Regions from separate parts of the Homo sapiens genome. Here region 1 is linked to region 2. The links come from fine-mapping of genetic effects on gene expression. A gene starts in region 2. The other region holds a variant in brackets. All regions are shown on one strand. Distances are from middle to middle. Region 1 overlaps FLNA (filamin A). Region 2 holds the start of DNASE1L1 (deoxyribonuclease 1 like 1).

Evidence for each region. PIP is the estimated chance that this variant, and not a neighbour inherited with it, causes the effect. A credible set is the group of variants that fine-mapping cannot tell apart.
Region 1: its variant is the best candidate, but not a certain one, in a credible set for the expression of DNASE1L1 in skeletal muscle (GTEx, PIP 0.80).

What each region holds. Positions count from the first base shown.
Region 1 is chrX:154,350,902-154,353,801 of GRCh38, reverse strand. It overlaps FLNA (filamin A), which reads left to right. Exons shown (of 48, transcript NM_001110556.2): 36 at 75-248; 37 at 345-506; 38 at 598-801; 39 at 878-1,030; 40 at 1,127-1,249; 41 at 1,355-1,621; 42 at 1,781-1,918; 43 at 2,106-2,221; 44 at 2,761-2,893. Among named protein-coding and RNA genes, the nearest start is that of FLNA, 22 kb to the left of the region's middle. The variant C/T (reference allele first, on the strand shown) is at 1,594.
Region 2 is chrX:154,407,782-154,410,681 of GRCh38, reverse strand. It overlaps DNASE1L1 (deoxyribonuclease 1 like 1), which reads left to right and starts at 1,428. Exons shown (of 8, transcript NM_001303620.2): 1 at 1,428-1,570.

The DNA.
Region 1 (2,900 bases), 57 kb after region 2:
ATCGGAGCTCCTCAGTGCAGGCCAACTGGAGTGTCCCCAGCATAGTTCCCATGCTCACCCACGGCTCTCTCCAGGGGGCCTGTCTCTGGCCATTGAGGGCCCGTCCAAAGCAGAAATCAGCTGCACTGACAACCAGGATGGGACATGCAGCGTGTCCTACCTGCCTGTGCTGCCGGGGGACTACAGCATTCTAGTCAAGTACAATGAACAGCACGTCCCAGGCAGCCCCTTCACTGCTCGGGTCACAGGTGGGTGGCACTGGGAGCAGTGACAGAAACGGGTGGCAGGGTGGGCATGGTCTCCCATGGCTGGACGCACACTGATGGCTGGCCTGTCCCCACCAGGTGACGACTCCATGCGTATGTCCCACCTAAAGGTCGGCTCTGCTGCCGACATCCCCATCAACATCTCAGAGACGGATCTCAGCCTGCTGACGGCCACTGTGGTCCCGCCCTCGGGCCGGGAGGAGCCCTGTTTGCTGAAGCGGCTGCGTAATGGCCACGTGGGTAAGCGGCTGAAGGGTCCAGGGGGTTCAGAAAGGAGGCAGCCTGTGGGGAGCCATGCCCTCCCTGACTGACAGCCATGCCCTGTGTCCAGGGATTTCATTCGTGCCCAAGGAGACGGGGGAGCACCTGGTGCATGTGAAGAAAAATGGCCAGCACGTGGCCAGCAGCCCCATCCCGGTGGTGATCAGCCAGTCGGAAATTGGGGATGCCAGTCGTGTTCGGGTCTCTGGTCAGGGCCTTCACGAAGGCCACACCTTTGAGCCTGCAGAGTTTATCATTGATACCCGCGATGCAGGTAGGCAGTGGCTGCCCACCAGCTGGGGCGGGAGCACTGTGCATAGCACCGAGGCTCAGGGGTATCCATCCCCTAGGCTATGGTGGGCTCAGCCTGTCCATTGAGGGCCCCAGCAAGGTGGACATCAACACAGAGGACCTGGAGGACGGGACGTGCAGGGTCACCTACTGCCCCACAGAGCCAGGCAACTACATCATCAACATCAAGTTTGCCGACCAGCACGTGCCTGGTGAGTGCAGCAGTGCCTCGGCAGCCCCCCTCACTACACCAGGGCCCACAGGCAGTATGTGACTGGAGGGGCGTGGGCCGTGCTTTCTTCCTGCAGGCAGCCCCTTCTCTGTGAAGGTGACAGGCGAGGGCCGGGTGAAAGAGAGCATCACCCGCAGGCGTCGGGCTCCTTCAGTGGCCAACGTTGGTAGTCATTGTGACCTCAGCCTGAAAATCCCTGGTAGGGGCTGTGGGAAGCCTGGGGAGGGGTCCTGGGGCTCAAGCAGCCCCAAGAGGAGGGGTGGAGCCCAGGGCTGCTGCTCACTAGCCCATCCCCACCCTGCAGAAATTAGCATCCAGGATATGACAGCCCAGGTGACCAGCCCATCGGGCAAGACCCATGAGGCCGAGATCGTGGAAGGGGAGAACCACACCTACTGCATCCGCTTTGTTCCCGCTGAGATGGGCACACACACAGTCAGCGTGAAGTACAAGGGCCAGCACGTGCCTGGGAGCCCCTTCCAGTTCACCGTGGGGCCCCTAGGGGAAGGGGGAGCCCACAAGGTCCGAGCTGGGGGCCCTGGC[C/T]TGGAGAGAGCTGAAGCTGGAGTGCCAGGTAGGCCTGCTCACACCCCGAGTGCTCGCTCTCCTGCGTTGGCCAGGGTGGGGTTGGGGGTGGAGGAAAGAGCCGGCAGGCATGTCTACCTTGGCTATGCCTGGAGGGGGCCGAGGCTGGTGAAGCAGCCTTCAGTGAGGACAAACTGTTCTCCCACAGCCGAATTCAGTATCTGGACCCGGGAAGCTGGTGCTGGAGGCCTGGCCATTGCTGTCGAGGGCCCCAGCAAGGCTGAGATCTCTTTTGAGGACCGCAAGGACGGCTCCTGTGGTGTGGCTTATGTGGTCCAGGAGCCAGGTACTGGGAACCCGGCTGGGGTTGGAGGAGGTGGGGCCTGAGTGTGGGTATTGGACCCAGGGCTGGCACAGATAGCCCTGCCTGGCACTCACTCTTCACTTTGAGGTCACAGGGCCACCCAGGCTGTTCGTGGGAGGTGGGAGGCCCAAAGGCTGATGAGCCGGTCTTACACTCTTTCCCTGCCCAGGTGACTACGAAGTCTCAGTCAAGTTCAACGAGGAACACATTCCCGACAGCCCCTTCGTGGTGCCTGTGGCTTCTCCGTCTGGCGACGCCCGCCGCCTCACTGTTTCTAGCCTTCAGGTGAGGCACCGAGAGAAACCGCCCACCTGGGGCTCCTGGGCCCGGACAGACCAGAGCCACCGCAGAGACCAGGCCTTGGCCCTGTGTTCAGTGACCCCCCTGGCCCAGCTCTGGGTTCCAGGCCTCTGCTCTGGCCGGGTGCAGCCCACGCTTGGGGTCGGCAGGAAATATCCTGCCCACCACGTGGAGTTTTTCTCGTGTCTCAGGTCTAAAGGCTTTGAACAGAAGCCTGTGCCCCTTGAGCACCAGGGCTGCGGTTTAAAGAGGGACAGCCTGCCAAGGCTGGGTGCTGCCCACAGGGTGGGGCAGCCCTCCCTTCCTGCCACCTGGGTGTGTGCGACGGCAGAGTGTGGGGGCAGGGGCGGGGATGTGCGCCTGTGGCTTGCTGCCCCTTGCAAATCAGTGGCTCTCCCTCTTTAAACCAAGTTGGACGCCAGATGGGTAAGTGCGACCCGCGGGCCTCTTGCTCCTGGGGCCTTTCCGTCCTCCCTTGCCCTGGCTCAAGCACCCCCATCTAACCATGTCTGCTGTGCTTCCAGGAGTCAGGGCTAAAGGTCAACCAGCCAGCCTCTTTTGCAGTCAGCCTGAACGGGGCCAAGGGGGCGATCGATGCCAAGGTGCACAGCCCCTCAGGAGCCCTGGAGGAGTGCTATGTCACAGAAATTGACCAAGGTGAGGC
Region 2 (2,900 bases):
CCCAGGTTGGTCTCGAACTCCTGAGCTCAGGCAGTCCACCCACCTCAGCCTCCCAAAGTGCTAGGATTACAGGCATGGGCCACCGCACCCGGCAGTTTTTTATTTTTATTTTTATTTATTTTTATTTTTGAGACAGAGTCTTGCTCTGTTGCCCAGGCTGGAGTGCAGTGACGAGATCTCAGCTCATTGCAACCTCTGCCTCCCAGGTTCAAGCGATTCTTCTGTCTCAGCCTCCTGAGTAGCTGGGATTACAGGCGCAAGCCACCACACCTGGCTAATTTTTGTATTTTTAGTAGAGGCTGGGTTTCTTCATGTTGGTCAAGCTGGTCTCGAACTCCCGGCCTCAGGTGATCTGTCTGCCTCTCCTCCCAAAGTGTGAGTCATCCTACCTGGCCTGTTTTTTATTTTTAAACCATAATTTATTGATTTTTTTTTTTGAGATGGAGTCTCGCACTGTCGCCCGGGCTGGAGTGCGAGTGCAGTGGTGTGATCTCGGCTCACTGCAAGCTCCGCCTTCCAGGCTCAAGCAATTCTCCTGCCTCAGCCTCCTGAGTAGCTGGGATTACAGGCGCCCACCACCACGCCGGGCTAATTTTTTGTATTTTTAGTAGAAACGGGTTTCATTATGTTGGCCAGGCTGGTCTTGAACGCCTGACCTCGTATCCACCCGCCTCAGCCTCCCAAAGTGCTGGGATTACAGGCATGAGCCACCACGCCCAGCCCATAATTTATTGATTTTTTAAAATTTGTCCAGCCTTCTATTACCACGTCGAATCCATTAGCTACAGCCATCCCATGAGAAGCTGAGTGGATTCAGCCCCACCTCCTGCTCACAGACCCTGTCCGAGCACCTCATTTGTCCCAACAGCATTACTGCAGGACCCCCAGGACGTTGGACTGCCAGCTCCCTGGGTCTCCTCCTCTCTGGGGCAGATCCTCAGTCCTCCCTTGACTTCACGACTGTGGCCAGATCATGTGTGGACTGTCCCTCTCTTTGGGTCTCCAGAGCGCTTGCATCAAACACCCCTAACTCAGAAGTGTGCAGCCACACTGGGACTCAGAACCCAACAACAGGGACAGAAGACTCACGCCCTTGGGGTGCCCGGTCTCGTGGCATCAGGCATGACTTCCAGCTCCTGCGCCTTCCCCAGCAACTGCTGACTGGGGACCCAGACCGGGAGCTGAGCGACGGGCCTGGCGAGCGAAGCTCGGGGTCTCACTCAGGCACCAGCCCCTCCTTGCCCCAGGCTTGAGTGACTCACAGGTCTGTCATGTCCCGCTGGCCCGGGAAGGCGGGGTCTGGGTGGGAAGGTGGGCGGGCAGGTCAGCAGTTCCCAGGCCTGGTGCTGGTCCTCCTTGTTGGCGGCGAGGCGGAGACGGGGCGGGCCTGCCTGTTGGCAAGGGTGGGGCGTCCGGCCCAGCCAGGCCCTTCCTGGCCGGGTGGCTCAGGAACACAGCCTCTTCCTCTTTTTTTTCCCCTCCTAGCCCTATTCAGGCAGGAGCTGCTCTTCTGGGGTATCGCGATCCACTTAAGGATGAGGCAGACTTGGTGACAAGCTGGTCTGAGCAGGTATGGGAGCCCCCTGGGGAGACGGAAGAAGGGAGGAAGTTGCCTTCTGCCTGGGGAGGGTTTGAGAGGGAGAGGGAAGCCTAGGGCTCCCACCAAGGCTGATATTGACAGCCAGGGTTTGGGGCTGAAGCCAGGAACCGTCGCTCTCTCTGGTTCTTACTGGTAGCCCTCATGGGGGTCCCTGACGCCAGAGCCTCCAAGGCTGCATGTGCCAGCCCAGGGCTGCCCACATACCCATGTATATCCCAGAATAGGCACCAGGGTAGGGAACCCAAACTAGCATGAGTGACAGAGCAGGTGGTCAGGGAGAAACAGACATCAAACCCAGCCAGGAGAGAGACACCGCAACAGAGAGACAGAGAAGGGAAACCAGAGACGAGAGGGAAAGTGAGACAGAGACGGACAGAGCCTCAGAGAGGTAGGAAGTGAGCCCGAAGGGAAGGTGACAGGTTGATAGAGAAAAGCAGGCAGACAGAGCAGAGGAACTCATGCCTCAGGATGCAAAAGCCACATGGACAGGGCGTGGAGCAAGGAGCCGAGCCCTGCAAGGTCAGGTGAGTGTGAGACAAAGATAAACTGAGAGAGGGGGGCTCCAGCTGGTGAGATGAACAAGAAGGGCTCCCCAGTGGTGGCAGGGGCATGGGAAAGAGTCCCCATCACAGGTTGCAATGGGGATGATTTGGCCATATCTGAGACCTTTTAAAATGCACACACCCTTCACTGCCGGGAGTTTATCTTAAAGAGAACATCTCACAAGTGGGGAGACAGAGATGAACGAAGATGTTCCTGTAGTTGCTAATGGAGGCGAAAAGCACTGGGGTCTTGGAACAACATGGTGAAACCCCATCTCTCCAAACAAATTTTAAAAATTAGCTTGGTAGCCGGGCGCGGTGGCTCACACCTGTAATTCCAGCACTTTGGGAGGCTGAGGTGGGAGGATTACTTGAGGTCAGGAGTTTGAGACCAGCCTGGCCAACATGGTGAAACCCTGTCTCTACTAAAAGTACAAAAATTAGCCGGGTGTGGTGGCACGTGCCTGTAATCCTAGCTACTTGGGAGGCTGAGGCAGGATAATCTCTTGAGCCTGGGAGACGGAGGTTGCAGTGAACTGAGATCAAGCCACTGCACTCCAGCCTGGGAGACAGAGTGAGACTCCATCTCAAAAAAAGAAAAAAAAAATTAGCTTGGTGTGGCAGCATGCACCTGTAGTCCCATCTACTCGGAAGGCTGAGGTGAGAGCATCACTTGAGCCTGGAAGGTGGAGGTTGCAGTGAGCTGAGATCACATTACTGCCCTCCAGCCTGAGCAACAGAATGAGACTATCAAAAAA